Homo sapiens: one gene and its partners. The protein of the gene in region 3 purifies or fractionates together with the protein of the main gene of each other region. This does not show direct contact. Each region holds a gene or a part of one and is shown on either strand. Other genes may lie near its edges.

Evidence for each region.
Region 1: the proteins of OPN3 (region 3) and EIF2B2 purify together in Homo sapiens (affinity purification with mass spectrometry; 3 studies listed by BioGRID and IntAct, with this or other methods). This does not show direct contact.
Region 2: the proteins of OPN3 (region 3) and EIF2B3 purify together in Homo sapiens (affinity purification with mass spectrometry; 3 studies listed by BioGRID and IntAct, with this or other methods). This does not show direct contact.

The regions. Positions count from the first base shown.
Region 1 is NC_000014.9:75,005,810-75,012,866, reverse strand, and holds the end of EIF2B2 (translation initiation factor eIF2B subunit beta), read right to left. Parts: intron 7,002-7,057; coding exon 6,906-7,001; intron 6,291-6,905; coding exon 6,153-6,290; intron 5,146-6,152; coding exon 5,079-5,145; intron 3,837-5,078; coding exon 3,679-3,836; 3' UTR 501-3,678; downstream 1-500. UniProt on the Homo sapiens protein: Acts as a component of the translation initiation factor 2B (eIF2B) complex, which catalyzes the exchange of GDP for GTP on eukaryotic initiation factor 2 (eIF2) gamma subunit.
Region 2 is NC_000001.11:44,850,515-44,857,625, reverse strand, and holds the end of EIF2B3 (translation initiation factor eIF2B subunit gamma), read left to right. Parts: intron 1-6,622; coding exon 6,623-6,675; 3' UTR 6,676-7,104; downstream 7,105-7,111. UniProt on the Homo sapiens protein: Acts as a component of the translation initiation factor 2B (eIF2B) complex, which catalyzes the exchange of GDP for GTP on the eukaryotic initiation factor 2 (eIF2) complex gamma subunit.
Region 3 is NC_000001.11:241,602,276-241,609,386, reverse strand, and holds part of OPN3 (opsin-3), read left to right. Parts: intron 1-4,807; coding exon 4,808-5,127; intron 5,128-7,111.

The DNA of each region.
Region 1 (7,057 bases), on a different chromosome or scaffold from region 3:
AACACTTCCAAATCACATTTCAAAATTGTTCTTTCATGTCAACTAGGTGCATGTCTGCTAAGGGAGTTTTTGCAAGGACAGGTGGATAGTGTGAGGCCTTTACAATAATCACATCACCATCTGGTACTATCTGTATGGCAGAGCAGTTCTGATGTAGTTGTAGTATTATAGATCATTACAGAGTATGCCAGTCATTCCATGATGGAACTGTGACTGGCAGCCTTCATTAGCCCAAAGACTGATGCAACAGATTGCTTTGAGAAATAGTTTTGAAGCACATCCATGAAACATATGATCCTATGGGTTCCAGCATTGATTTCTTTGAGGTATCATTTTACACTTCAGTTTTTCCTGGTAGAGTATTTTTCAGAGATGTCTCTTCTGAGGCTAAATTAGGAATTTCTGTTCCTTATTCAAGTTCCAAGAATTGTGCCTTTCCTGCCCTCTGCCCAAACTGGAAGATAGAAACCGTGGGAAAAAAGTGTCTTTACAAACTGCACTGTTATCTAACTTGGTTTATTTAGCATATTGAGGAAGACTTTCACATCCATGGAATCCTAGTTCTATTAATTCTCTCCAAGCTACAACAGTTGTTTTTTTGTTTGTTTTTTTCCGAGTTTCTCGGTTCCGCCAGCAAGGCAGGGGTGGGAGGTGGGCACCCCTGATACCAAGGCTGACAGGTAGTGAGTTGATGTGGAACTTCTGTTTCCTCCTGTTCAGTTCAGGTTCTCTCTTTCTGATACTTACCCCTCCTCAAATAGGGAAACGGAGAGAGGGGAAATAAGAAGATGAGCCTTAATAGGGTTTACTTAATTGGGGTCATAAAGATTCTAAAAAGTATGCATTCCTGCAGTTCTGTTCTAGGCACTGTAAGAGCTGACCAGAAAGAGAGCTTCTACCCTTATAACCTTCATCCAACTCAGTCATGCCTGGGAAGGATGTTGGTGCTAATTTTAGACACAGAGACTAAGATGGACAAAGGACAAGTATCATAAAGCATTTTTGGAGCCAGGAACAGATTTAAGTTCCTTGCCTCACTGCTGCTCTTACTCCAAACCACACAATTGTACCCAAGTGAATTGCTGTTAGAATTGGTGCCTTTGGAGGAGACAATTGCTCGTAATTGGTAGCTACAAGCCACTTCACTGAGAAAGCGTGGGGTCTTAGATGCTTTAAGAAATAATAGAAAGACTGAGCCTGAGTGAGTCAGGCTCTTCTGAGTCATACAGCTTTTAGGTCAGTGTAAAATGCCGACTTTCTGAGGTCTTACTTTTTTCCCCTCTCTGGAAGACCTAAGGCAAAGATCGCTCTCAAAGAGATATCAAAGAATAGAGACCTTTCCCTCAGAACCTACCTCTGCCCAGTGTTAACCAAAATGTGGTTTCAAATCACCTGTTCAAAGCCCACAGGCTATTTGTTAAACATGCAGATTCTTAGTGCTCCCTCCACCCACACAGACACTGCACAAGAGGCCCTGCTTTGGACCACTAGTTCCTAAACATGGCAGAAAATCTGGATCACCTGGGAGACTTTTTAGGTTAAAAACCGGAAACAATATGTAAGCATAAACATGTCAACAAAATTAGAGGATGTCCCTCTGCTTGCTGTGCTTGGTATTATACTTCTATACTGTTTCCCTATGCGTGTACATATAATTTTGTTTTGTTTTTGTGAGACAGAGTCTCACCCACTGTTGCCCAGGCTAAAGTGCAGTGGCCCAATGGCACTGCTCACTGCAACCTCTACTTCCCAAGTTCAGCCTCCCGAGTAGCTGGGACTACAGGTACCCACAACCACACCTGGCTAATTTTTGTATTTTTAGTGGAACTAAAAATTTTATTATAGTATTTTAGTTTCGCCATTTTGACCAGGCTGGTCTCAAACTCCTGACCTCAAGTGATCTGCCCTCCTCAGCCTCCCAAAGTGCTGGGATTATAGGCGTGAGCCATTGCGCCCAGCCAGTGTTGTTTTATGGAAATGAGTCCGTATTATGCATATTGCTCTGCAGCTTGTTGTGTTTTTTTTCCCCAGCTTGTTTTTAACTAACAGAGTATCAAATGGACTTCCTTGCAAATCTGTCCCATTCTTTTAACACCAGGATCACAACTCAAATGCCTACAGGGGTTAGGCAGATAACATAAATGAGTTAAATGGATCCAGTAGGAACTGCAGAAAACTGGAGATGTTCCATCCAATGGCATCAGATGTTACCCAACCACAAACTAACTACTGCCATTTGGAAATGTTGGCCCAGAGTTGCCAAATTTGAGTTTTCAAGAAAAGCAAGAAATCTGAATTTTTGAAATGTGCAATCTCCAGATTTTTAAATATTGGTAACAAATTCACATTAAATGCAGTGAACCAGCCCAAATGCCTTCAATCCAGACACTGCCCCTCCAGCCATCCTTTTGAAACTTCTATTGCCATGTATAATGTTCCACGGTGTAACTGTCAATACTTAACCTTTCTCCTATTGCTGGACACTTAGGCTATGACATTACAACTACTACACTGAACACTCTGTATAAATCTTTTTGCTTGTACAAATAATTCTAGAAATACAGCTTCCAAATTGCCCTCTAAAAGGCTGTACCAATTTATAGTCCTATAAACACTACATGAGACTATCCTTTTCTGGGAAGCTTTAAACAGATTCCCAGGTAGTAACCCTGAGATCAGATGCAGTAGGACTGAGATGAAACCCAAGACTGTGTGAGTGAGTGATCGGAATCACTCTCAGGTGATTCTGATGATCAGCGAGGTTTTGGAACTACTGTTTTAGACTATGAACAAACTTTGGGGCCAGGAGCAGTGAATTGTAAAGGAAACTATACTTTCATTTGTACTTGTTATTTTTTTAGAGACAGAGTCTTGCTCTATCATCCAGGCAGGAGTGCAGTGGTACAATGATAGCTCACTGAAGCCTTGAACTCATGGGCTCAAGTGATCCTCCCACCTCAGCCTCCAGCATAGCGAGGCCACAGGCATGTGCCACCATGTCTGGCTAATTTTTTAAAATATTTTTTTGTAGAGACAGGATCTTGCTATGTTGCCAGGCTAATCTCAAACTCCAGGCCTCAAACAAGCCTCAAACAAGCCTCCCACCTCAGCCTCCCAAAGTCCAGGATTACAAGTGGGAGCCACTGCATCTGGCCAGTACTACCATGTTGTACACTTTTCCCGCTAACTACAGCCCTCTATGCAAACACAAAAAAGGCTCTGCTGCTGCTGTTTCAAGCAGTTCTGTCAGAGTAGGACAATAAATAAACCAACTATGGAACCTTCAAGTGGCTTTTATTGGTAGAGCCTAGAAAAAGTGTCATAGCCATTTCTGAGCAAAAATCTGTATCCCAGTAAGGTATTCAGTGTTATGTTTAACACACTACTGAACCAGAAAGTTTAAGTTCCTGACACAGACGCAACCAGGTCACTAAGAGGCTCCAAAATCAACAAGTTAAGCCCTGCTGCTCTGTTAAGATCTGAAAGGCAAGACACAGTCCTGGATGTGTGCCCTTGTTACGGGGTGACTAAAAAGGCAGGCAACAGTATCAAGGATTTTTTTTTTAGGTGGACTCCTGTGCACTCCCACATTGCAAGGATGTGCTTCAGCAGCAACACTCAAGTCTCCTCTTCATTCTGTATCTGCCTAAGCAATCTGCTTAGGACACGTGTGGTCGGTCATAAAACATGATCATCAGGATGGTAGAGTTCACTCATCAGGCGGTAGATGTAGGAAGGTGCATTCCCACCAATGTTGGAGATAAAGAGGGTAATGAGCTCTGGGGGAACGTAGTCAAACACAGGGCAATGCACGCTGACCTTCTCCAGAATGTCCCCTGAAAGGCAAGCACACATGCTAAAGGTAAAACTGAGGCTCCCTCTCTCATAATTAAGTAGCATATAGATTCCAGGCTCGAGAATGCAGGCATATTAGCTCCCCAAGGACGGGAAGCTATGGAAAAATGCAAACCAGAAGAGATGACTTCAGATCATGACAATCCCTGCTTACAACTCTCCCATGCCTCTGCACAGCCCTCAGAATAAAATTCAAACTCAGGATTGAAGTTTAAGATCTGGGCCCTCCCTGACACACCACATGAATTACAATTTGGACCACTCTCCCCCTTGCTCATTACTGTCTAGCCATGTATGGCCATCCTTTTCTAACTGGCTAAGCCCCTGCACCAGCTCATAGAAAACTATGATCTTCATATGGTGGACTCTGTTCATTCAGGACTCAGCTGAAATGTCATCTCATTAAGACCCTTCCTCAATCTCAGGCCCCTAGCCACTTTCTACCACATCAGCCTTGCTTGTCCTCAGGCATCCCATGACCTGATACTTTCTCATCTGTCTTCCACAATAGAATGTGTGGGAACAGGGCCTTATCTTTTTCATTCATTGTTTTATCTTCAGTGCCTAGAAGAGTGCTGGATACATTGTAGGTGCTCAATAACTATTTCTTGAAGATTGAATGTTTATTTAAATAAAGGGATGAAGTCAATCAACTTCCAAGAGGAACTAGGACCCCAACCAACTACTATGCGTTGCTCTCAGATGGTGTGTAAGGCCACCCTTGCTGATGAGGCTGCACGCGTAATGAGCTGAGCTGCTGCCTTCAGAAGAAGCCAGAGAAAAGAACCCCAAGACATGAGACTATCCAGGCTACAGGTGAGTTTTCTAAGGAGGAACATTTCACAACCTGCTTCCTTTGGGAGTCAATTCACCAAAATGACTCCTTATAGCAGGAAAACAGGTACATTTTCCCAACTGGTTGTTGTCTATATCTCAAACAGCATGCAAAGCCAAACCCAGACAATGCTAAATGATCCAACCCACAATAGCCCCAACAAATCTAAAATATATTTGTCTCAGAACAAATTAACATGGACTTGGTCAGGTCCTCAAGCACTTTGAGCTTCTAAAGAAAACAGTCCCCACAAGAAGTATGATAAAAAACACAACTTGACAGCATTCAGTTCTACTGACCAACAAAACAACAAAAAGACCAAAACACATGCACACACAAACCCCGAATACACACAACACATGCACGCATGCACACACAGCTTCTGTACCTTCTGTGAATGGCAGGACTTCTTCAGGAGCCACAAACTTATGAAATGAGTCTTCTTCATTGGGGAACTAAAAAGGAAAAAATTTATAAAAACTAGAGACCCAGCAATTCCACTCCTAGGTATGTACCCTAGAGATGAAAACATATGTCCACACAGAAAACTTATACACAGATGCTTATAGCAGCATTATTCACAAAAGCCAAAAGCTGGAACCAACCCAAATGCCCATAAACAGATGAATGGATTAATAAATTGTGGTATGTTCATATAATGGAATATTATTCAGCCTCGAAAGGAAATTCTGACATTACAACATGGATGAACTTTGAAAACATCATGCTAAGTGAAAAAAGTCAGGCACAACATGTCACATATTATATGATTCCTTTTATACAAAATGGGCAAATCCATAGAGACAGGAGCAGATTGGAGGAGATGGGGAGAAGGACAAATAGGGAGAGATTACTTAATGGGTACAGGGTGTTTTTCTACAGTGGAGAAAAAGTTTTGAAACTAGAGAGTGGTGGTTGTACAATGCTGTGAATGTACTAGATATCACTAAATTGTATACTTTAAAATGGTTAATTGTATGTTATGTGAATTTCACCTCAATTTAAAAAATAGAGACCTATAAATAGGTTGATGTTTTCAAAGCAAATAGCTTCTATCACTGATGAAATGGCTCTTCACTTAGTCCTTGCTTGTATTCAGGTTACAAAGGACAGGCCCTGCAACAATAACAAAACTGATTCTATGATCCTACTTTCAACCTGCTTGGCATTTTCAGAAATGGTCAGGCGACAGGGAGTGGTGGCAATCGTAAGCAAAGGACCTTTCCCAACTACATATTGTCCTTACAATCTTGACTTCCTAAAGTTGACAGCTGAGAACTCTCAACTGTTTTACTGAATCAAGACTTCTGTGGTTCTTTCCAGCCTCCACTGGGTGTAATCCATTGAGTAAATGCAGATAAATGGAGGCCCTGGAGTGAGGTGGTTGAAGTCCCAGAGTTCAAGCCTACCCTTTGGCTTCCTTCTTTTCTGCTGGCTTCTAGCTAGAGACAGACACACTTACCTGTGGAGAAAGTTTGAACATAGGTGCACAGACGATGAGTGGGGTGGAATGGTGTTTTGCTGCCAGTGCCAGAGTGTGAGTTCCTGTCACAGCTCTCAGGGCCCCATTGGCCAGGATGGTCTTCGTGCCAATGATCACCTTTGGGACAAGACAAAAAATGTGAGCCATCCTGGGGGTGGAGCCCTAAAAGGGCCACTGGCCACAAAAAGCTAAATGCTTAGACCTCAGAATTGGTATCGTGAGGGGTCACAGACTGGTAGAGGTGAAGGGATCCCTGGCTCAATACAAGTTCTAGCTTAAAAGTAGGTTTCCAAGGAAAGAATGAATGTAAAATGGGACAAGAAACTGCAAAACCTACTGCTCTCAGTCCCATATTTTCTGGAAATTGAGATGCCATACCTTCTGAGAAGCCAGGAATCTTTTTCATTCACTATCCACAACTGCCAAGCTCTTTGAGCATAAGGCAGGAGCCCTGTAGCCAATCCCTAGAAACTGACACTCTTGCCTTAGTTCTATTTAATACTTCATTCTTTTCAATGCTTCAACCAAATTTAGAGGCTACTCCAAGAGAGGAACAATGATGCAGAAAAAAGGGAAAAGAAATTCAGTTAACAGATTAAAAAGGCCTAAGTATGTACTTTGAAAGGTGCTAGAAACTTTATTCTCTCACCGTGGATATTACAGGAGGAGATAAAAATCAATATTTTAGAAACATAATCTTCATGAATTCAACATAACTCCAGATATACCCACCTTGTTGACTCTTGACATAACGGCAAAAATGGCAGCATCAGTCATGACAGTTGTCTCAATACCTGCTTTGGACAAATTCACAGCCATTTCATGACCCTGCAATGGGAGGGAAAGGCTGATTCTAAGAGAAAGAGTGAGAAATAGTGAAAAGT
Region 2 (7,111 bases), about 200 Mb from region 3:
GGGAAACAAGCACATACGTACACTGCGGGCGAGAACATAAATTGATAAAGCCATCTTTGGAGAGCAGTTGACATCACTGTCAATTTTTTTTTTTTTTTCGGAGTTTCACTCTTGTTGCCCAGGCTGGTGTGCAATGGTGCAATCTCAGCTCACTGAAACCTCCGCCTCCCGGGTTCAAGCGATTCTTCTGCCTCAGTCTCCTGAGTCGCTGGAATTACAGGCATGTGCCACCACGCCCAGCTAATTTTTTGTATTTTTAGTAGAGATGGCGTTTCTCCATGTTGGTCAGGCTGGTTGCGAACTCCCGACCTCAGGAGAACTGCCCACCTCAGCCTCCCAAAGTGCTGGGATTACAGGCGTAAGCCACCGCACCTGGCATCACTGTCAAATTTTTTTACTTTGACTTAACAGTTTCATTTCTAGAAATTAATCTTATAGATAAGCTTATACATGTATGCACCCTTAATCTCAAAACCTTGAAAACATATCAATAGATCTAATGGCCCAGGTTGGCACCAATACTGTACAGTGATTCTTGAAGCCTAGGCACAGTGGTTCATGCCAATAATCCCAACACTTTGGGAGGCTGAAATGTGAGGATCGCTTGAGCCTAGACAACATAGCAGGAACCCATCTCTACAAAAAAATTAAAAATTAGCCAGGCACAGTGGCACACACGTGTTGTCCCAGCTACTCAAGAGGCTGAGGCAGGAGGATTGCTTGAGCCTGAGAGGTCAAGGCTGCAGTGAGCTGAGATCGCACCACTGCACTCTAGCCTGGGTGACAGAGGGAGACCCTGTCTTAAAAATAATAATAAAAATTAAAATGACTGATTGCTTTTGGTATTATTCCTAAACCTAAAATAAGGTGGGGAGGGGAGTTGCTGAAGGAATTAACCCCACCAACTCTGTAGACGCCACATCATTTCCTTCTTCAGTTTCTTCCCCCTTCCCTTTTTTAAAGTCATATGCCTTCCTTTTGGGCTTTAGAATCAAACAGACCTCAGTTCACATCTCAACTCAACTTAGTGGCTGTGCACCAAGTGAAATTTTTAATCATTAAGCCCTCAGATTTTCCTTTTTTTTTTTTTTTTTTTTAATTTTAATTTTTTGAGACAGAGTCTTGCTCTGTCGCCTAGGCTGGAGTACAGTAGTGCTATCTCAGCTCACTGCAGCCTCCTCCTCCTGGATCCAGGTGGTTCTTGTGCCTCAGCCTCCCGGGCAGCTGAGACTACAGGGGCACACCACCACCCTTGGCTAATTTTTGTGTTTTTAGTAGAGACAGGGTTTTGCAATGTCACCCAGGCTGGTCTTGAACTCCTGGCCTCAAGCAAGCCACCCACCTCACTTTCCCAAAGTGCTGAGATTACAGGTATGAGCCACTGCGCCCAGCCCCAGATTTTCTTAATTAGACAATTGGGACAATAATAGCTACCTTGGAGAATTGTGAGAATTACATATAATTAAATGACAGGTATATGCACTACTCCTTGAGTGTACCAAAAGACTTAGAATTCCTCATACATACCGTGCCATTATACCTCTCCATGCTTTTACATGTGCTCTCTCTAGATTTCCTCTCTTGAAGACTCCGACCAAGTGTTTTCTCCTTTGTAGAACCTTCTCTGCCTCTTCCCATGACTCCCCATAGCAGAACTACACATTCCTTCCACTGTGTCCTTGAGCTTTGCCACACCTTTATTAAAGTATGTTTCACAAGCCATGGCAATTATCCGTGAATCAGCCTTCCCTACTAAGATCCTCAAGGTCAGCTGGGCATGATGGCTCACACCTGTAATCCTAGCACTTTGGGAGGCCGAAGTGGGCGGATCACCTGAGGTCAGGAGTTCGAAACCAGCCTGACCAACATGGTGAAACCCCGTCTCTACTAAAAATACAAAAAATAGCCAAGTGTGGTAGTGCATGCCTGTAATCCCAGCTACCTGGGAGGTTGAGGCAGGAGAATTGCTGGAACCCAGGAGGCGGAGGCTGCAGTGAGCTGAGACTGCACCACTACACTCCAGTCTGGGTGACAGAGCAAGACTCCATCTCAAAAAAAAAAAAAAGATCCTCAAGGTCGATTGTCTCATAACTATATGCATCCCTAGCTCTCAGAACAGGTCCTGATTTATGGTAAATGCTCAGAAGGGGAAAAGAGTGAATGAATGAATGTTGGATCCATGAAACATATTTTGGGGGATTTCAGGGTATAAAGTTAGGGTTCCAAGAAAGGCCTCTGTGCGATGGTTGCAATCATCATGAGATGGGCTTCATAAACTCCTGGGCTTTCTGGCTTTAATTAACACTATGTGTCCACCTTTTAGCAAGGAGACCCTTTAATGGTCCTGCTGAAGGAGGGCTGGCCAGGGAAGTCATCTTGTCTGGGCTCTAAACTGGACAACCCCACCACTTCCTTCTCTCTGTCCTCTGCTGGAAGGACCAGTGCATCCAGCACAGTGGTCAGTGCCCTCCTGCCACAGGAACTCCCTGGCCAGTTGCCTTTTTCCACTATTACTTCTTCTTTTTTTTTTTTTTTTGAGACTGAGCCGTATGGTGAAAGCAAACTCCTAACCATCAGTGCAGCACTCAAGACTTGTTACTATAGGTGACCTAGGCAAACACCAACAACTCACATCCTTACCAGCAAAGAGCTCAATAGATGGCAAAGTCTTCCGTCAGTCTTCCTCACATGAAGGGGTTTCAGGAAAAAACATTCATCCTAAGAAATAATGCAGTCTCAGCCGGATGCGGTGGCTCATGCCTGTAATCCCAGCACTTTGGGAGGCTGAGGCGGGTGGATCCCTGTGGTCAAGAGTTCGAGACCAGCCTGACCAACATGGAGAAACCCCATCTCTACTAAAAATACAAAAAATTAGCCGGGCGTGGTAGTGCATGCCTGTAATCCCAGCTACTTGGAAGGCTGAGGCAGAAGAATTGCCTGAACCTGGAAGGCAGAGGTTGTGGTGAGCTGAGATCACGCCATCACACTCCATCTTGGGCAACAAGAGCGAAACTCCATCTCAAAAAAAAAAAAAAAGACATAATGCAGTCTCCTCTCCAAATTCTAATCATTTTCATGCTCCAGAGTCACCACATCCATAGCAGTCTTTTTCCCCAAAAGTATGGCTCGTAACTCAGTGTAGGCCTCCCTACCCTCTTCTAGCACCAACACGAAAACAAGCCATTTTATAACAACTCTGACTTTTCTCACCCCATCCCAATACTCTCATTGGTTATCTCTGGCAAAAATACTGGCAGCCAAATTTGACCTTCTCAAGCAGTAGAATGGCTACAGCTAACAGTCAAAACCTAAAAAATGGCTGGGTACAGAGGCTGTAGCTCACGCCTGTAATCCCAGCACTTTGGGAGACCAAGGCGAGTGGATCACTTGAGGTCAAGAGTTCGAGACCAGCCCAGCCAACATGGTGAAACCTCATCTCTACTAAAAATACAAAAATTAGCTGTGTGTGATGGCACACACCTGTAATCCCAGCTACTTGGGAGGCTGAGGCAGGAGAATCACTTGAACCTGGGAGGCGGAGGTTGCAGTGAGCAGAGATCATACCACTGCACTCCAGCCTGGGCAACAGAGCAAGACTCCATTCAGAAAAAAAAAAAACAAAAAAAAAAAACACTAACTGCTAAAAGCATGCTTCATCTGAGTCTCTTCTTACAGTCAGTGACAGAACTTGGATCTCTTCCCTATGGCCAGAGTGATCAGTTCTTTGACCATGAAAGTAGACCTGGTATAGGTCAGGCTGTTGATGTATACTTGACACAGGTCAAATCCTCCTGGCCAGCAGGAAGCTTTCCCAGTTTCCCAACAGTGCACCTTTTATTTGTGATGTTTTTCCCTTCTATCCCATTGCTATTTTCCCAACTTATCATCCTCCCTTGTATTTTTCCCCTTGGGATCTTTCCCAACCTGATTCCAGCCCAAAGATTTTCCAGTGTATTTACTGGACCCTACTCCCATCCCTGACCAAGCATCACTAGCTTTGCTTAGTTTTTTGTTTTTTTGAGACAGGGTCTTACTCTGTCACCCAGGCTGAAGTGTAGGTGGCACAGTCACAGCTCACTGTAGCCTTGACCTCCCGGGCTCAAGCGACCTCCCTCCCTGGCCCCTGAGTAGCTGAGACCACAGGCATATGCCACCACATCCAGCTAATATTTTTATTTTTTGTAGAGATGGTGTCTAACTATTGCCCAGGCTGGTCTCAAACTCCTGGGCTGGGGCAATCCACCCACCTTGGCCTCCCGAAGTGCTGGATTGCAGGAGCGAGCCACCACGCCCGGCCTAGTTCTGCTTGTTGTGCCTCTACAGGTTTCCTCCAACTTACTGAATCACCATGAAAATACATCAACCCCAACATGCCAGATATAGTCTCTGTTCCCTGGCTCCCCCTGCCCCTTCCAGGCTATTGGCTCACTGCCTCCTTTCTATAGTTCTTTTTCCTTGAAAGTTTTCTATAGCTCTTCTTACCTTTCACCGCATCATTGATCAGCTTCCAGGGTACTTCCCTACATTTATTAAGAGCTTTAGCCTGTGGTTCACAGTCTTCCTCTCCTCTCCCTCACTTGTCCATAACATCTTGGACAACTTAAACATATTCATCAGTAAACTGTCCAGCTCTCCGGCTTCATGATTCCCTGAACTTCTCTACCAACCTTCATCTGCATTCAGCTTTAGCTCTCCAGTTATATGACCATATCCTATCTTAGTCATTACCCAAAACCTCTAAAATCATCATGTGGCAGTAGCTATGCTAGACACTGGGGATATAATCATAACTACACTGTTCCATCTCTCCTCTCAATGTTCTTGGTTTGTTTTTTTTTTTTTTTTTGAGACAGAGTTTCACTCTTGTTGCCCAGGCTGGAGTGTAATGCTGCGATCTCGGCTCACTGCAACCTCCACCTCTTGGGTTCAAGCAATTCTGCTGCCTCAGCCTCCCGAGTAGCTGGGATTACAGGCATGCGCCACCATGCCTGGCTAATTTTGTATTTTTAGTAGAGATGGGGTTCCATCATGTTGGCCAGGCTGGTCTTGAACTCCCGACCTCAGGTGATCCACCTGCTTTGGCCTCCCAAACTGCTGGGATTAGAGGCATGAGCCACCGCGCCCAGCGCCCTCAATGTTCTTATAGTGAAGTAGAGGAGAGTGGTATAATGATGTAGGAATAGAGATATATATTAGGTACAGTGGTTTCACAAAGCAGGAAATGGACAGTGCAAAAGGGAAGGCATCGCATATTAGAGGTGCTACGTTAGGGCACATAGGGTAGTAAGAGTGCAACAGGAAAAAATGGAGGGGGAAGCATTCTAGGCAGAGGGTTGTGCCAAAGTTCAAAGGTATAAAACAGGGCCAAGTGCGGTGGCTCACGCCTGTAATCCAGCACTTTGGGAGGCCAAGGCAGGGCAGATCACTTGAGCCCAGGAGTTCCAGACCAGCCTGGCCAACATGGTGAAACCCCATCTCTACTAAAAATACAAAAAAAAAAAAAAAAAAAATTAGCCATGTGTGGCGTCATATGCCTGTAGTCCCAGCTACTGGGGAGGCTGAGGCGGGAGAATCACTTGAACCCAGGAGGCGGAGGTTGCAGTGAGCCAAGATTGCGCCACTGCACTCCAGCCTGGGTGACAAAGCAAGACTCCATCTCAAAAAAAAAAAAAGGGATTAAAACAGTATGGCTTACTGGCAAAATGGAGAATAGTGGGAAATGAAGCTGGAGAGGTAGGCAAAGATGTCATGGAGGGCCTTATGGGTTTGACCTTTATAGAAATAATAATAGCCACAACTTATTGAGCATTCACTTACCTTTAACTCATTGAATTCTCACAACAACCCTATGCAGTAGGTGTCATTATTTCCATATTATATATGAGGTATTGCCCTTTCTTATCTCCGTTTATCCTTTTAGCCTCATTTCTTACCCTTATCCCCTCATTTCCTATTCTCTGGCCACACCACAGTATTTCATGGTCCCCTTTCTCCCATCTCACTGTCTTTGCCCTTGCTGTTCTAACAGCCTAGAATCCCTTCCATCACTGCCTGTAGAAACTATTCACCCTTTAAGACCCAGTTTCAGTTCTCCTATTTAAAGCCTCACCACAGCCAGGTATATAGACAGTTGGTCCCATCCTCCTGCATAGGAAGGTGCTCTCTCTCTCATATCCCTATTTCCAAGAGCTTCTCAAGATCACAGCCACAATAGTAGAGAAATAAATTTTTGTGAACACAGAATTAGAAGCAGTTGGGTTTGGCTGGGCGTGGTGGCTCATACCTGTAATCCCAGCACTTTGGGAGGCTGAGGCTGGCAGATCACCTGAGGTTAGGAGTTCGAGACCAGCCTGGCCAACACGGTGAAACCCCATCTCTACTAAAAATACAAAAGTTAGCCAGGCGTGGTGGCGGGCGCCTGTAATCCCAGCTACTCAGGAGGCTGAGGCAGGAGAATCGCATGAACCTGGGAGATGGAGGTTGCAGTAAGCCGAGATTGTGCCACTGCACTCCAGCCTGGGTGACAAGAGCGAAACTCGGTCTCCAAAAAAAAAAAGCAGTTGGGTTTGAAATGTCATCTTGCTGCCAGTTCTCAGAAAACTTTTTTCCTTTTCTTTTGTAGCTAAACGAGTGAATGAGGTGATCGTGGGGAATGACCAGCTCATGGAGATCTGAGTTCTGAGCAAGTCAGACTCCTTCCTTTTGGCCTCCAAAGCCACAGATGTTGGCCGGCCCACCTGTTTAACTCTGTATTTATTTCCCAATAAAGAAGGGCTTCCAAAGGCATGCTGGAGACTTGTGGAGCAGTCCAAAGCTCCATGTCAGGTGGGCTCCAGGTGTACACAGTGTATGTTCATGTGTCATGTGGTAAAGATCATCTGGAGCAAGTGTGTGGGACAGGACAGATACAGTGGCCTAACTCTTGTGTGCCAAGATGTATCGGTGGGGCAGCAGCTGTCCAATGTAAAGCTCCTAGGAAGGCTACTTTCTGACTGGCTGACCCAACCCAGTCCTGAAAGTATCCCTCACCTAAAAGGACCTGGGAGTACTTCAGTCCCTTATCCTAATCAGCCTTTCTAGACCCATAGGCCTAGCTGCTGGCAGTGCCACG
Region 3 (7,111 bases):
TCACAGGATTTGGAGTAAGTCTTGGGTTCTCAAAACTGTCTCCACCACCTGTTGGTGGAGACATCAATTCCTTAACCCTTGGAGCCACAGACCTTCTTTCCAAAAGAGTGCATATCATATGTGGAGTGATGATCATGGGACCTGGTGCATAACCGGCACCCAGTTTGCAGCACTCATCATTCCCATTGCTTTTCAGTGTTCACGGAAATGGATGCACCATTTGAAGTAGAATTTGGTTGTCTTCCTCATATCTGCTCATGTACCATGTAGTTTTTATTTGCGTTAATAAGGCTCAACATCAGTTAAAGGTCTAAAGTAGTTGTAAGACAGTCCTTTCATTCTTATCCTCCTGGTGGAGTGTTGTGGGAATCAAATAAAATACAGCAATTAATTCCAACTCAAGACCAAAATTTGTTAGTAAATAAAGCATTGATGGGAGAAGGGCTGCATATTTTGCAAGGAAGATGTAGATTAGATCATTTCAGTTGGGTTACCCTCGAAGACTAAGTCAGTCTGACTCATGCTGCCACTCAGTTATATGCTCATGCTATCAGGGAGGACTTGGGAAATACAAGGTTTGCTAGATCTGTACTAACATGTCATGGTACATAACAGCTGAAATCAGGCACCTGAAACTCATTGTGCTTGCTAAGACACAGGCTTGATCAAAAACGATATTAGTAAATGTTAAAGTCTCTTTGACCAAAATAACCAGAAGGAAAGTGTTACTAACCTCTTGCACCCTGACTTATCACAAGGCTGGGATTTTTCATACTTCAGCTCTGAGTGCAATGGGTCTTTTCCTGACAGCCTGCCAATAGCAGCTGCGTCCCTTTCTGTGTCCTTCCCACCATGCCTCACATTATCCTCTATCCCTGCACTCTCTATTCTTCATAGCACTGCACTGATTTGCTTGTTTGATTTGTTTTTTTATTGTCTCTCTTACCCACTGGACCTTAAGGCCATGAGGGTTGGTTTCACTCACCTCTTTATATTTATTTTCTAGCACAGTGACTGAAACATCACAAGCAATAAGTAATGACTAAATGAATGAATGAATATATGAACATGATATGCTCATACCAGCTTATTTTACCAGCTTATTGCTTTCACCATAAGAACTCATTTATTCCTCTCTAAGGTACATTGAAATTTACTAATTTACAACAGTGCAATTATTTGTACTGAGTTTTCTTGCCTATGAAAGACTAAATCGTATTCAATGTAAATCAACTAAAAGTTGAGTGCCAAACTATGTTTTAACACATAAAGGCAGTTATAAAAGTAAATACCATTATACTTAATAAGAAAGTTTGTAAACTACGTAAAACCAACAGTATTTCATTAGCGTCAACTTATGTCATTTTCTTTAGGTTTTTAGATTTTTTTTTCTAGGAATCTAATCAGGTAAAGAAAGGATAATATCACTTTTTAGATAAAAATTTAATAAGGTAAAAATAGACTTCTGAATATGAAAGTCATCTACCTTGATACTTTCATTGTCCCAATAATCACTACTGTGATTTGAATTAAATCCATTATTTGCTATATTTGCTATTATATCATTACTTTCTTTCTTTTTCTTTCCTTTTCCCTTCCTTCCTTTCTTCCTTCCTTCCCTCCTTTCTCTTTCTTTCTTCCTTCCTTCCTTCCCTCCTTTCTCTTCCTCTTTCTTTCTCTTCCTTCCTTCCTTCCCTCCTTTCTCTCTTTCTTCCTTTTTCTTTCTTTCTTTCTTCTTTCTTCTTTCTTCCTTTTTCTTTTTCTTCCTTCCTTCCCTCCTTTCTCTCTTTCTTCCTTTCTTTCTTTCTTTTCTTTCTTTCTTTCTTCCTTCCTTCCTTCCTTCTTGCTCTCTGTCTGTCTGTCTGTCTGTCTTTTGATGGAGTCTTGCTCCATCGCCCAGGCTGGAGTGCAGTGGCACAATCTCAGCTCACTGCAACCTCTGTCTCCGAGGTTCAAGCAGTTCTCCTGTCTCAGCCTCCGAGTAGCTGGGATTACAGATGCATGCCACCATGCCTGTCTAATTTTTGTATTTTTAGTAGAGACAGGTTTTCACCACGTTGGCCAGGCTGGTCTTGAACTCCTGACCTCAGGTGGTCTGCCCACCTCAGCCTCCCAAAGTGTTGAGATTATAGGTGTGAGCCACCACGCCCAGCCTTATACCATTATTCTCTGAAGTATTTTCTTCCACTTGATTCCAAAACCCAATCTTCTTCCGGTCACTTGAGTATTTAGTAAATTTCGCTTATTAATTCAAAGAACATTTATTGGATGCCATGTGTGTGAGACACTGGGAATAATATTGCTCCCCACCCTCCAACTCCCACAGAAGAACAAACCTGTCATGGTATAAATGAATATTAACTATGTTATACCAATTGCTTTCTGAGTCCAGCACCTCTGTATTTCATTCTTATTAATTGCAGAATCGTGAAATGTTAAAATATGAAGGGATTTTCAATTTTATGAAAACAAAAAGAGATTGTTTGATTTGCTGAAAGTTACAGAGCTATTTCGTGGGGAGCTGGGACTTGCCTCCAGGCCTCTTAACCCGTTTGCCACCCACACCCTTTTCTCCCTTACTTCTCAGGAGACCAGTCTTATTTTCATTCTTCATTTGAACTGCTTTTCTTTCAGTCTCTCTGCGTCCACTCATTCAACAAATATTTATGCTCCAGGAAGCTCACGATTTTATTGTCTTCCCCACATCTGTTCATACACCTTGTGGTTTTTACTTCAGTTCATGTAATCACTCGCTATTCCTTAGGCAGGTTAGAAACCTCCAAGTTATTTTATTTATTTTATTTATTTATTTATTTATTTATTTATTTATTTATTTATTTTGAATCAGAGTCTCACTCTTGTTGCCCAGGCTGGAGTGCAATGGCACGAACTCGGCTCACTGCAACCTCCACCTCCCTGGTTCATACAATTTTCCTGCCTCAGCCTCCCAAGTAGCCAGGATTACAGGCTTCTGCCACCGCGCCCAGCTAATATTTTGTATTTTTAGTAGAGACAGGGTTTCGCCATGTTGGCCAGGCTGGTCTTAAACCCCTGACCTCAGGTGATCCACCCGCCTCGGCCTCTCAAAGTGCTGAGATTACAGGTATAAGCCACCGTGCCCAGCCAAAAACCTCAAAGTTACTTTTAACTCCTCTCGCCCCTCACGCCTCACATTCGATAAGCAGATAGATTCTGTTGATACCAGTTGCTAAATGTTTCTGGAATCCAGACTTTGTTGTTCATGCCTTTTAATGTCATCCTAGCTGAGGTCCCATCATGTCTTGCCTGCTGTTGCAATAGCCTTCAAGTTGGTTTCCATGGCCTCCAATCGTGTTTTACATTCTCTACTACTGCCAGAATGAGCATTCACTACTGAAGAAAAAGGAGGAGGAGGAAAAGGGGAATCTAATGATGTAAAAGGACAAGAGAGTAACAGATTCATAATTTACTATTTCATAGAGGAAAAGGTTAAAAAATAAAAAAAATTAAAATAACACAAACGTTAGCTAGAAGTTAAAAGCCTTTGTCAATGTGGCTCTCTCTAAATTTCTCTTTCCATCTCCTGTGAGCCCTGACATCTTTGAATCATCGTTTATAGACCCCTTGGTGTCCTTTTACGTCTCCATGCTCTGGTACATATTTCTTCACTCTTCCTGGAATGTGTTTCTGCCTTGTGTGCAAATGCTTCCCTTTCTGTGTCTCCAATCCATTGTGTGGCAGTGGGAGCATTCACACATTGCATGGTCATTGTCAGTGTTTACACACGTACATTCCCTTCAGACATCTAGAGTTCTGTCTCTTAGTCACCATGGGCCATCCACTGCACAGTGCCTGGCACATAGTAGGTGCTTGTTAAGTGAGTACCTTACTCTCTGAAGGTGACAGAGAAATATACAAACAGTATCATTAAAGCGGACTTGTTGCAAAATAGCGGTACACGTGAAGACCATGCAAGCCCAGAAGACCCCCTGACCCCTGTCAGCAATCCTTGTGTGTGAACAGTTTGTATGCTGACATCTGCTGGTAGTACGCAGGTTACGGCAGTCCTCTGCATCATTTTACTGCTACTTCATTCAGCTTGAGCTTTTGCAACCCCCTTTGACTTTACCTCTAATAGCTGAGTCAGAGACAGCCAAGAGAAGGTAAACTAAAAGAGACACTTGCTCTAGTGACTCTCCCTTACTCGTTCTGGAATTTCTCTTCAGGAGAAAGTTTAATACAATAGGGGCATCTTTGGGGTGGGGCTGATTTAGGGCTTTTAATTTTTGTCTAATCTTTTTTTAATCTGCATGGCATTTTCCATTTTATTTTATTTTATTTTTTTTTTTTTTGAGATAAGGTCTGGCTCTGTTGCCCAGGCTGGTGTGCAGTGGCGCAATCTCAGCTCACTGCAACCTCGACCTCTCTGGGCTCAAGCAACCCTCCTGCCTCAGCCTCCTGAGTAGCTGGGACCACAGGCGTATGGCACCACATCTGGCTAATTTTTGTATCTTTTGTAAAGACAGGGCTTGCCATGTTGTCCAGGCTGGTCTTGAACTCCTAGGCTCAAGCAATCCTCCCACCTCAGCCTCCCAAAGTGTTAGGATTACAGGCGTGAGCCACTGACTGCCCTTCTGTGGTTCCTTTTATGGATAACTATTTTCAGTATAATTTCCTTGGGACTATAGACACTATTACTCTTGGCTTTGAGAGCACTCTATCGATCTCAGATACTCTGTAAGGTATTTCCAGTGGAGAATGTATCACGTCTCTTATGCCCGGTTTCCCCCTGCACCATGCTATACTTTTCCACTTTCTCTTCTTGCAGGGATTGTTTCCATTGCCACCCTAACCGTGCTGGCCTATGAACGTTACATTCGCGTGGTCCATGCCAGAGTGATCAATTTTTCCTGGGCCTGGAGGGCCATTACCTACATCTGGCTCTACTCACTGGCGTGGGCAGGAGCACCTCTCCTGGGATGGAACAGGTACATCCTGGACGTACACGGACTAGGCTGCACTGTGGACTGGAAATCCAAGGATGCCAACGATTCCTCCTTTGTGCTTTTCTTATTTCTTGGCTGCCTGGTGGTGCCCCTGGGTGTCATAGCCCATTGCTATGGCCATATTCTATATTCCATTCGAATGGTGAGTTGAAGACTACAGATGCCCCCCTCCCAAACCACATCCAGGGTAGAAAATTTTGTCTGGAAAATAATGAAAGTCTTCCTATGTCATCAGTAGTTGCCCAGAGGTAGAGCAGTTCTAGGGGACTTCCCATCTGGTTGAATTTTATGCTATGAGTCACTCTCTGGAAAGATCAATGCGGAATAGCATTTACTCTCTCTACATCCCTCTCTCAACCAAAAGAAGGAAAGAAAAATCTTCTGACTGACAAAATCAGCAACCAAAAAACCCTACATTATCCAACACTCTTAAAATTTAAGAATTTAAAAGAGGGAACTCCACACTTCCCATAACTTTGTTTATTCAGAGGTCATATGAATTTGACTAGAGAACAGCACAGATGTTTTGTTTGGCGATCACACCAGAGTCATAAAGGGTAAGAACTGACCACAAACAATTTCACGTTGGGTGCCAACAAGAACTTTCCAGTTTGAACTCAAACCCAGTGTGGAACAGGCTCCACTTCCCAGTCTCTAGCTTTGGCCATGGATGTTTCCTTCCTCATTCACTGATTCTTCCAACTCTATTCTCTGCTTCTGTCTCTAGTCTCTTGCTCACTCCGTCAAACCCTTCTAACTTTCACCTTTTTAAAAAATCGGACTTAGCTACATGCATCACTTTAAATCATTTGTTTCTACATTCTTTACATATGCCAACTTTGTTAAAGACAAAATCCCTAGATCAGTTCAATCATCTATTTTCTCTATGCCTGTAGTCAAACTGCAAGGAGGAGCTGGAAAAAAAAAAACAAAACACATCTGTCTACACTTAGATGTCCTCTCAGCCTTGTTCTACCAACCTTTCTATCCCTGTATGTGTGGTCTACTGTCTCCACACTGTGACTATTACACAGACTCATTTCTCATTTTAATTTCTCACCCTACTGTCTCCTCTCATTCTTATCAAGTAAGTCTGCTTCTGATTTATCGGACCAAACAAAGCCATTATCAAGGGTTCCTTTGACTCCTTACCTCTCTTTACACAAACCACTGATTCTTAGGACTCTCTCTTCAGTTACAGGGCGACAGGAGAGGTCTCCCAGGACCAACTCGATTCTGTATTCTGATTGCTCCCCCACCCCCTTCCATGCCCCAGAGACACTTCTTAATAATTTTCTCTTTCCCTTGTATCTTCACACTCTCCCTTACCACTGGCCCTTTCCCTTTAGCATATTACCAGGCTATTTTGTTTTTAATCACAATCTACTCTCAGCTCCCTCTAGCTATCACTTTATTTTTCTCCATTTTGTCACTGCTAACTCAAAGAACCATTGGTGACTCTTGGTGCCACAATGTCACTCACTAAGCATTCATTTACCTGATATTTATTGAGCATATCAAATATGCCAATTTCTTGCTGTTATAGACTGAATGTTTGTGTCCCTCTCAGATTCCTACGTGGAATCTCTAACCACCGATGTGACAGTATTTGGGGATGGGGCCTTGGGAGGTAATTAGGGTCAGAGGAGGTCATGAGGATGGGGCTCTGGTCTGATGGGATTAGGGGATTAGTGTCCTTGTAAGAAGAGACACCAGAAAGCTTGCTCTTTCTCTCTCTCTCTCTATCTCTATCTCTCTCTCTCTGTCTCTCTTTCTGTCTTCCCACGAGTGCATAAATAAGAGAACATGGAAGCACACAGTGAGATAACAGTCAAGAGAGGAGGCCTCAGAATGATACCTACCTTGCCAGCTACTCTACCTGGGACTTCCCAGCCTCCAGAACTGTGAGAAATACATTTCTGTTGTAGTTCAGGGAGTTGGTAGTTTAGTAAGTTTATCTAGCATTCATTCCTCAACTTAAGGCAAACTTGTGACTCCTTCCTCTACCGCACTGCCACTAATACAGCCCTCATTTCAGGTCATTGATGAGCTCCCAGATATGTGATCCCATGGACACATTTTTATTCCTTTCTAGCATCCTCAGCGTTTGAGACTATTGCCAACTT